Regions from separate parts of the Homo sapiens genome. Here region 1 is linked to region 2. Evidence: fine-mapped expression QTL. A gene starts in region 2. The other region holds a variant in brackets. All regions are shown on one strand. Distances are between the middles of the regions. Region 1 overlaps LEPR (leptin receptor). Region 2 holds the start of LEPR (leptin receptor).

What was found. PIP is the estimated chance that this variant, and not a neighbour inherited with it, causes the effect.
Region 1: its variant is fine-mapped to the expression of LEPR in fetal neocortex (Walker 2019, PIP 0.95).

The regions. Positions count from the first base shown.
Region 1 is chr1:65,479,579-65,484,959 of GRCh38, reverse strand. The region is part of intron 2 of LEPR (leptin receptor); the gene reads right to left. Among named protein-coding and RNA genes, the nearest start is that of LEPROT, 62 kb to the right of the region's middle. The variant A/GTGTGTA (reference allele first, on the strand shown) is at 2,837.
Region 2 is chr1:65,418,207-65,423,587 of GRCh38, reverse strand. It overlaps LEPR (leptin receptor), which reads right to left and starts at 2,920. Exons shown (of 20, transcript NM_002303.6): 1 at 2,848-2,920. LEPROT (leptin receptor overlapping transcript) reads right to left here and starts at 2,920. Exons shown (of 4, transcript NM_017526.5): 1 at 2,848-2,920. The coding sequence starts at 2,863. RefSeq lists enhancers at 2,417-2,466, 2,540-3,073, 3,074-3,606 and silencers at 2,837-3,336, 3,357-3,426.

The DNA.
Region 1 (5,381 bases), 61 kb before region 2:
TCCTTTCACTGACCAGATAGCAGATTTCCTTATAAACATATACAGTATTGTGATGAATTTCAGAATAAAAATCATAGCAGTATCCTTTAACCATCCTTTTCTTCAAAAGAAGCATGCAATTTTCAGATTCTAGTAAACCATATTGAAGGATGCATCTGATAACCTATGTTTGCTCTGAAATTGACCTAAACAAATCTTGATCTCATTGGCTTGTTACAAAATATGATCTCTTTGGGTGTGGAACAACTTTCCTTCCCCATGAGTTATTATTGAAGCCAGAGGCTTTTCAGTTGCATGAAATACTCAGGATTCTGATCTGATGGCACTATGCCTCACCCAGAGTCCTCCTGTACCTTCGGTGTTCTTTATCATCATTCTTTCCTAGTTCATATTGACAAGTCTCAGTGTTAAAAGAACAACTGATGACGCTCTCTTTGTACAGTCCACAATAGAATAAATATTGACCAGAATGTAGGAAAACCTTGGACGTGTGACAACACTGACTTGAAAGCAAATCATTAGTTTAAAAAACAAGTGTGTGATAAACGAACTCTTTTTTAAAAAAAAAAGTGTGGGAGGCATGTATATGTAACAAAATTCCCAAATGATGTTAGTAAATTAGATTTTAAAATCTAGAAGTAAAATATTTTGTTAATTCTATTAAATAAGAGCTTATAAGGAATTTCATGTCCCCTGATTACACAAATATTAAGCTCCTACTATGGGCCAAGTAATCTGGGAACTAGGGGTATCGCAATAGTAGCCTAGTGGACGGATACAAACACACAATAAAAAAGTGTAAAGGCCAGGCACAGTGACTGGTGCTTTTAATCCCAGCACTTTGGAAGGCCGAGGCAAGAGGATCTCTTGAAGCTAGGGGTTCGAGACCAGCCTGGGCAATGTAACAAGACCCTACCTCTACAAAAAATTTAAAATTACCCTGCAGTGATCTATGACTGTGCCACTGCACTCCAGCCTAGACAACAGAGCAAGACTTTATCTCAAAAAAAAAAGGAGAGAAGGGAAAAAATTAAAAATTTAAAATGTAAAGTCATGATGAAGGTTATAAAGAAAAAAAAACAAGGAAGAAGATAGTGACAAGTAGGATGGGTGGTCACTTTTCAGATAAAATTATCAGAGAAATCATCTTAAAAAGATGACCTTTCAGCAGGCACTAGAATGAATGAAGAGACAGAGCCATGTGGATATCTGGAGGATGGATATTCCGGTAAGAGGGAATGGCAAATATAAAAGAATAATCGAGAAATACTTCCAAGGACTGAGGATGGCAAGAGTGATGGGAAAGTAGTAACAAGTGAGATTAGAGAAGCAAGGGAGAACCAGATCATACATACCAAGTCCTGGTAGGGCATTTTAAGGACTTTGATTTTATAGCGGTGGCCTTGATATAAGTTAATATTCACAGGCTGATGCCACACAAGCCTAAGGTTGTTGTGATATCGTAACTCCCTCAAAAACTTAGGAGACAGGCCTTATTCCTTTAGGTTAATTCCATGCTGAATCTATCATTGTCTAAGGTTCTCATTGTCCTACATCAACAGTTTTTTGTAATATCAGGTTGTATTTTTCCAATCTGATAGGTAGGAAATGGTGATACATTGTCGTTTTAATTTTCATTTCCAAGATTACTAAGGAGTTTGAGAACATGTCCATGGTATTGTCTTTTTCTTATTGATTTGTAGAAAAATCAATATTGATTTGTATATCTGAATACTAATTATTTGCTAGATACACACACGCACACACACACAACATTCTCCAAGTCTGCTTTCTGCTGTCCTTACAGTGTCTCCTGATGAACAGAGGTTCTTAATGTGCTCAAATTTACCAATCTTTCTCTTTATGGTTTGTGCGCTTTGTGTTTTGTCTAAGCAATATTTCCCTGCCCCAAGTCACAGATACTCCCTTTGTAGACTTTTACCTTCCACATTTACTTTTTTTTTTTTTTTTTGAGACAGAGTCTCACTCTGTCACCCAGGCTGGAGTGTAGTGGCACAATCTCGGCTCACTGCAACCTCCACCTCCCAGGTTCAAGTAATTCTCCTGCCTCAGCCTCCCAAGTAGTTGGGATTACAGGTGTGTGCCACCACGCCTGGCTAATTTTTTTGTATCTTTAGTAGAGACAGGGTTTCACCATATTGGCCAAGCTGGTCTCGAACTCCTGACCTTGTGATACGCCTGCCTTGGCCTCCCAAAGTGCTGGGATTACAGGCTTGAGCCATCGCACCCAGCCTCACATTTACATTTTTAATAGACATGGAATTGATATCTATGTTCATGGTAAAGTGAACATCCAATTCCACTTCTTCCATGTAAGTAACCAATTATTTCAACCCCATATGTTGACCAATTCCCTCATTTCACTGGTTTTCAGCAATGCCACCTCTGTCACATACCAAGTTTGTTATGTTCCATTGCTCCCTTGGTCCCTTAGTCCTCATACCAGTCACTCACTCACTTCTTATTTAATAAGCTTAATAATAAAATTTGCTTCATCTTTTTCAGGACAATTTGGGTCATTCTCAGACCCTCAAGTCATCTATATAAATTTTAGAACCAGCTTTCAAGCTTTGTCATTTCAAGCTTTTTAGTACAACACAGATTGCCTTCAGATACATATTTTAATCCCATTGAATATATTGTTCCATTTGAGTAGATACAGCATCTCAAAATATTTTGTCTACAAATTCATACATATGATATATCTTCTATTAATTCTGGTATTTTTAATATCTTTTAATAAATTTAATAATTGTCTCCATTAAGGTCTTTATTTTTTCAGCTCATTCCCTGGTGTGTGTGTGTGTGTGTGTGT[A/GTGTGTA]TGTGTAAAATTGCCATTGTAAATTAAATTGTAACTTTTAATTTCAGCTCTTTTAGAGCTTTGTTGCTGTTGTATAGAAATACAATGTATTTGTATATTGATTTTTATCCAACAACTTATCTAAACTTTTTAATCAATTTTAGTAATGTATCTGTAGCTTGTTGTAGGTGTTCCATATTAAATCATCATATAAAATTTCTAAAATGCTAATTTCCTCTTTTTTCTTCTAATTCTTATACTCTTCTTTTTCTTGTTTTTGTTTAGGGTTTTAACTTTTCTTCTGGGGTGTTTTTTTTTTTTTAGTAACATTAGCAAATTACCTGAAAGATAATGTGTCTGAAGTTGTACCAAACTTGTACCAAAGTTGAAGTATATTTACATACCTGGAATAAATTGAACTTGATAATGATGTATTAATTCCTATACATATTGCTGTAATTACTTTTAAATAATATAAAGTCTGGGATTTTTGTACCTATGTCTTAAACATTGGTCTATAATTTACTTTTATTTATTATACCTATTCAATCCACTTTTAGAATGAAATGAGTTGGGCAACTTTTTCTTATCTTTTATTTTCTGATACAACTAAAGTAATATAGGGATTTTCTGTTCCTTGGAAAGTGTGTTTGGACTCACCTGTAAAACAACCACAGTCTCTATCTACTAGGAATGTGGTAGTAAAAGGAAAGGATTAATAATCATGTTATATTATTGGTGTATTTAATTTTCTATTTCACATTTATGCTGGGAAGTTGTGGGTTTTTTTTCCCCGAAACCCACTTTTCTAGACTGTTATGGGCTGAATCATATTCCTAGAAAATTCATATAAAGTCTTAATCCTCAATTCCTCGAATTGTGACTGTATTTAGAGATAGGGCCTTCAGAGAGGTGATTATGTTAAAATGAGGCTGTTAGGGTGGGCCCAAATCTAACCTGCCTGCTGTTGTTATAAGGAGATACATGTGACAGCAGGCATGCCTGCACACAGAAGAAAGACCACGTGAGGATACAGTAGGAAGGCAGTCAGTCATCTGCAAGCCAAGGAGAGAGGCCTCAGGGGAAACCAAACCTACCAACACCTTGATCTTAGACTTCTAGCCTCCAAAGCTGTGAGAAAATGCATTTCTGTTGCTTAAGCCACTCAGTCTATGGTATTTTGTTATAAGAGCTCTAGGAAACTAATATATACGTATTTATTGGAGTGTAAGCTAGTTGTTCAAAACATTTTTTTCTTTCTCTCTTTATCATGTATTTTGCTTATTCATATCTTTTCTTTTTTTCTTAACCTTGCTAGAGATTTTTCTGTCTTATTAAGAGTGAACCAGACCTCCTGGTTCAGATCCTGGCTCTGCTATTACTGGTAGTGTGAACTTTGACAAGCTACTCAACTTCTCTTAGCTTCTTTTTCCTCTTTTGTAAAATGGGGATAAATATCCTCATGTATATATCTTTAATATATAAATAAATAGGAAAAACAGAAAATCTACTCAAACCTATAAATTTCCTCTGCCTTAGCGACTTCCAGTAAATTTTGATATGAGATACTTTCGTTATCATTCACCTGTGGGTATTTTGTATTTTCCTTTTAAATTATCATTTACTGCAAGGGTTAACTGGCACCCTGTATTCCATTTTATTTTGTTTCCAGAGATAGGGAGTGTTTTGTCTCCCTTCCATTATATCTTAGCTTCACTCTAGTCCTTACTGGATACATCTGTCTCCATGCAGCTCCTGGTTCATAGACACCATATCTTCTTGTACTTTTCTGAGGATGCCAGACTATTTCTTAAATATTTTTCTGGATCCCAGACTAGCTGGTTTTCACATGTGTATTCTTCCTCAAAAACCATCTCGATACGGTTTTTCTTTGTTGCACAGTATCTTTTTTTTTTCTACCATAGGAATTGTTTTATTTTTCTTCTCTACTTCTTGAACAAGGCAAGACCTATTAAAGCTCCAGGTTTTCAATAGGTAGGTGGATGGAGTTTCTGTTGGTCCTGCTCATTGTCCATTGGTGTGGTGGTTGACTACTTTTCTCAAATCTAGAACTGAAGGGTAGATTGACAGGCACTGCTCGCATTCTAAACCCTAGATTCTAGCTGGCTTCCTTCTGGCCTGCTTCTGTTTTTCATGGGTTAACACGTTTCACGTTCCTTCCACCTGACAGAGTTGTTTTTTTGTTTGTTTGTTTGTTTGTTTTTTGTCTTGTTTTGTTTTGTTTTTAGTGAGCTAAACTGATTACATACCTACTAAGATCAAGTTTCTTTTTCAACTTAAACCTTCAGGACTGTATTCCTGGGAATTGCCTTCTTAGAAAGCAGTGAATGCTGCTGATTGTCTTCTACTTTCTGCCCAGTTGTTTTGGAGGATTTGTGGTTTAGTATCTACCTGGCATTAAGAAGATGACAGTTGAGTTTGATGACGGATATACAGAAGATCAGGAAATATGTACTCTGTCTTAGAAAGCACTTTTAGAAAGGCATACAGGGCTTCCTCAAAACCCATTTTCTTTATTGTCTGAACAAGTGAAGAAGTGTAAACT
Region 2 (5,381 bases):
GTGGATGGAAAGCAAATACCACATACTATTTCATTCAGATGATCTTTTCCCAGCAGGCTTTGCTCCTCTCCTCTGTGCCTGACCATCGGCAGTACCCCCTCCTCCATGAGGCCTGTCAAAGCTAGGTACTGCAGACCTCTTCCTTCTGTTCTGATACCAGTTTCTCAACGTTCACAACCATCTTTCTGTTTGATTCTTTTTGGTCTTTTTTTTCCTCTTTTTTCAGGAATCACATCCTCTGAATCTCTTAAAGTTGGAGTTGACCAAAAATCCAACCCCATCTCTCTTTTCACTCCACGCACTCCTGCTGAAAACTTATGTTCAACCCAAAGCTCCTACTACCACAAGGGCCCGGCCGCAACTGATGCTCCAGCCCAGAGTAGGTCCTAAAGAACTAGGCCTGTACTTCCACCTCCAGTCTGGACTTCTCTGCCTTGACCGCCAACAAGAACCTCAAATTCAACATGTGTAACACGTGTAAAACCAAACCACTATCCCTACACTTTAAAGGTCCTATCTTAGAGGACTGACACCATGATTGCATTCCACCTTCCAATGAATCAGTAGGTCAAGGTGACTCAATCTCCCAGACTTCTTAAACTCTCTGCTACAGCCCTGGTGCAGGCCCTTAACCTCTTATTCCTGCCTCTGTGACTCTTCCAATCCATCCTCTACACAGCAGACAGTGATCTTTCAACTATATATATCACCGCTGCCATCCCTTTGCGGTTGCTTCCACAGCCTACAAGTTGTTCTGGCACGGAGGCTCACCATCGCCTGACTCACTCCTAACTGCCTGTCCAGCCAGCTTCAACCCTCACCACTAAGTTCTGGTCTTACTAATGTAGCTTAAGTACCTGAAGAGAAGAAGGCATGTTGTTTCATAAGCCCTGCGCCATGTCACGTGCTGTCCTCCCCACTTGGGATATACTCCACCTTCACTCCATGCCTTGCCAAGGGAAGCCACATTGATCCCTTCAGATTCAGTTCAAGCATCGCCTCTTCTGTGAAAACAGTCCTTTCTCTGGAGCAGGGGAATCAATCCCACCTGCATCAGCTTCCTAGGGCTGCCGTTACAAAGTACCACAAACTGGATGGCTGAGAACAACAGAAATTTATCTTCTGACAGTTCTGGAGGCTGGACTTCTGAAATCAAGGTGTCAGCAGCGCCACCACACTCCCTCTGAAGGCTGTAGGGAAGCACCCTTCCTTGCCTCTTCCTAACACTCAGTGGTTGCCAGCATGGTTGCCAACAATCTTTGGTGCTCCTGACTTTGTAGCTGCATCACTCCAATTTCTGTCTCCGTCTTCCCATGGTATTCTCCCTGTATGTCTCTATGTCTAAATTCCCCTCTTCTTATAAGGACACCAGTCATTGGATTAGGGCCCACCTTAAACCAGTTATCATTTTAATTTGATTATATCTGCAAAGATACTACTTCCAAATAAGATCACATTCACAGGTACCAGGGAATTAGAGCTTGAACACATCTTTTTGGAGGACAAAATCCAACCCACCATCTGTTCTCCCACCGCATCTGAGCCCAACATAAACACTGACATAGTAATATAATTATTTCCAGCTCTGTCACCCACCAATAACTTCTCATTTATCTTTGTATCCTAAGTCTCTGGCATACAGTAGTTCCTCAATAAAAGTTGAACAATCTGTAAAATGCTTCCTTCCCTTAGTCCGTTTCCATTTCAGACTTCCTTTTTTTTCACTACATCACAATTTTCTAACACATTCACACATAAACGTGATCATGATTTGGTAGTTTCTGATCATGTGTAGTACTGAGACACTACTTTTCATCTGTTTTCGGCATTGGCTTCAAATGGATATATAACACAGTCGACACTCTCCAAGTAAACCATGTTTACTAAACTGATATTAAGTATAAAAGTCAGCCAGAAATAACGATAAAATGTCTGCTGCTAACAGCTCACATACTCGGATAAATTCATAGTGAACAGAGGCGTACTCGTATATATACTATCTACATGTTTATAGCAGATGTTAACTGGGGATATCTTTGGGTGCAAATTTCAAGGATGATATAAAAGCCAATATAAAAACAAGTCATGCTACTCTATTCGACAGATTAGAAATGGAATGTTTTCCTACCAAAATACAGGAAGCCTTGCAAAAAACCTTTTCCGTCTCGCATTGCTCTGAAGCCATACAGATAAGGGACGCGGTGTTTTTACCAACTGCCCCATGCAAAAAACACATACTACACACACACTGGTTTCTTCTCTGTCCATAAACAGAGAAAACACCGAAGAAAGCAGTATTAAAATTACACGTAATCTACTCTCCACGACTGCGAGAAACACCGTCTTTCTGGGTGCTTTCCATTGACACCCGCCCGCGGTCAACTCTGCCCAGTTGGAAAAATCATTAGGAAAAAGAGGATTAAGTTTCCCAATGCTAAGAACGCTGGAGACAAAGGGTCCTTTGTGGCAAATAGGAAACTGCGGAGGGGCAGAAAACCAGAAGAAAGGCGTTAGGGTGGCGTCAAGAAGTGGAAACCTTGTTTAAAAACTCAGGAGAGGTGGAGGGCGCCGCTCTCGCCGAGGGCTCAGGCTGGGGAGGGGTCTGGTGCCGCCACTGGAGAGCAGGAAGGCCAGCGGCCTTGCAAAAAGGGCCAAGGCTCCCCCGAAACGCCGCTCCACCCACACCCCAAGGGACGAAGGGAGCGGTCGATCGCCTCCCGAACCGGAGAGGCGGGAAGGGTGGTGAGGCCGTTCCCCAACGGCGCGCGGAAGGCGCAGCCCCAGGCTTGACCGGAACGGAGGTGGCAACCCCACCACACGACAAGCGAGCCGGGGACCGCGATGTACCTTTAACGCCCGCCATGTCTCCCGAACTGGGGCCGCGGCTGCTTCCGGCTTCCTGCCACGGCCCGGGCAGCCTGCCCAAGCCAGACCGGGAGTCGCCCCGCGGATCCCGAGCCCGCCCCGGCCACGCAGAGCCCCGCCCCCGCCGGTGCAGAACTCCGACCTTAGCTCGCAAACGCGGCGCCTGCTGCTCCAGACCCCGCCCCCACCACTCACAACCCCGCCCCCGCCGGTGCAGAACCCCGCCCCCAGCTCGCAGAGGCCGCGCCTGATAGTTCAGACCCGGCCTCGCTACTCAGAGCCCCGCCCCTGACAGTACAGAGCTCCTCCCCTACCTCGCGGAGGCAGCGCCTGCGGCTCCAGACCTCGCTACCGCTACTCGAAGCCCCGCCCCAGACAATGCAGAGCTCCTCCCCTAGCTCGCGGAGGCCTCCCCTGCTGGTCCCGCCCCAGCCCTCACCGGCCCAGAATTCCGCCCCCAACTCTCAGAGGCCGTCCCTGCTGGTCCCGACCCCGCCCCCGCCACCCAGAACTCCGCTCCTGCCAGTCTAGAACTCCGCCCCCAGCTCGCAGAGTCCATCTCCAGCCCTAAGGTCCCACCTGGTCCCACAGAGCTTTCCCAGAGTAACCCCAACCCAGTGCCCTGGGCCCTCCTCCTAGATCCTGAGCCCTCCAAGTAATCCTCAAGCCCGTTCAATGTGGGTTGGGACCTTGGCTCCGCCCCGACCGCGGGCCCAGAGTCTCTCCCCGGCCTCTCAGAACGCAGTGCACGCAGCGGGGGATCCTCCCTGAGCCTTCCTGAGAACGGAGATGTAGAAAGTGGGGAGAGGCAGGAGAGGGAAGGAGGGGAAAAGTTGCAATCGATGGGAGAGGGACACCGACTCACTAACCAGTGTTATGTTCCCTGAGCTCCCAAGTGCGTGCTAGTGTGCGAGTGTGTGCCTGTCTGCCTTCACATGACTGTGGCAGAGGAGAGGCGGGGTACCAGAGGACAGGCCCCTTAGGAAACACTCCTCATTAAGAACTTGATATTTGCATAGGTTTGCTTTGCTTAATAGCAACGCTTTACTGAAACTAGCGGGGTTTTTCTTTACTCCCTGGTTTATTTATAGAGACGAAGACCATATAAGCTTTTGTGTCCGAAGCTTTCATGAACCTTAAAAAAAAAAATAAAAAAAAAAAGCTATTATTTTTGTGCCTTGGGGCCTCAAAGTTTGCAGGTAACCAAGGCCAGTTTTTAGATCTCTGAGAGCCATTGTGTACTTATCTTACAGGAATGGAGAGTTCTGTTTTGGCAAAAGCAATCTAGAAGATCATTGAAACAGTCTGGTCCAAATGCTTCAACTTACATTTAAGGAAAGAGGTGCAGAAAGGATAGGACTTGCCTGTCACACAGCTCTTTGGAGGAGGTTGGATTCTGGGCCACTTCCCCTCATTCTAGCTGAGATCCACTCTACCTGATGGTGCCGTCCCTCTTCTCTTGCTTTTTCTCCGTTTTCAAAAGGACTGAAAGACAAAGGAATCTGTGGAAACCTAGCTTCCCCTGGCTACCTGAGAAGTATAAATTCTCACCACCATCATGTTTCATGATCCTTGCTCAGTTTACTTTTTCAAAATTGCACATTGAGCATGTTACTGTTTCAAGAAATGTCTATTTGTTGATTCAGTGGAGTATTTTTCTAGCTGTCAGTTTATTTTTCTAGCTCCTCTCATTTCTCCTCATAGACGGATGGCACACTCACTGAAAACAGCATTGTAATACCTGACTCACTGCTGATGCTTGGAGATCCAATACTACAGTACAGCACTTTTTACTTTGGAGCCTTCAATCTACTCAAGAGCATTGGCAGTGTATGCCACTTTGGTTTAAGGATTATTTTGAGCTGAAGGCAATTAGGAAGAAGCAAATAGGTACACGGTACTAGAAAAGCACTCTGCCCTCCCTCTATTTGCCAAAAAGCAGGATATAAGTTTACGAAGGTGTACCTCCTTCCTGCTCTACCAGGAAAGACAAAGATTAATCACCAGAGACAATTTTAGACCCCTGTCAGCCTGGAGACAACACAAGAAAAATCTACATGATAAACCTTAGTATTTGGCCTTCATCTGCAACTAGTCTCCCATATATTTGTTTTCCGACAATTTGCTGCCCCTAGAGACTCAAGATCCTTTATCTTGTCATTTCTTTAAAAATTTATTGTTCCTTGGCTAATATGCTGTATAAACCCAAGTTCTAACCAAATCTTTGAGTTGCTTATCTCTGAGTATTCCCATGTTACCTATATGAACAACGCACGTGTTGATAAACTTGCTTTACTTTTGTTCATCTGTCTTTGGCCAGTCTAATGCACAAGGACCCAGCCGGAGAACCTAAGATAGGTAGAGAAAAAGATTCTTCCTCCCCTACAAGAGCTTGTTTCCCTATCATATTATTTCTAATACCTATTAGAGCACTCAAGGGAACCTGCGTATCAGACAAGCCCTGGAAGTCTGTGGTTTTTAGCTTTCTTCGTGTAGTGCTAAGCTACTCTCATGGG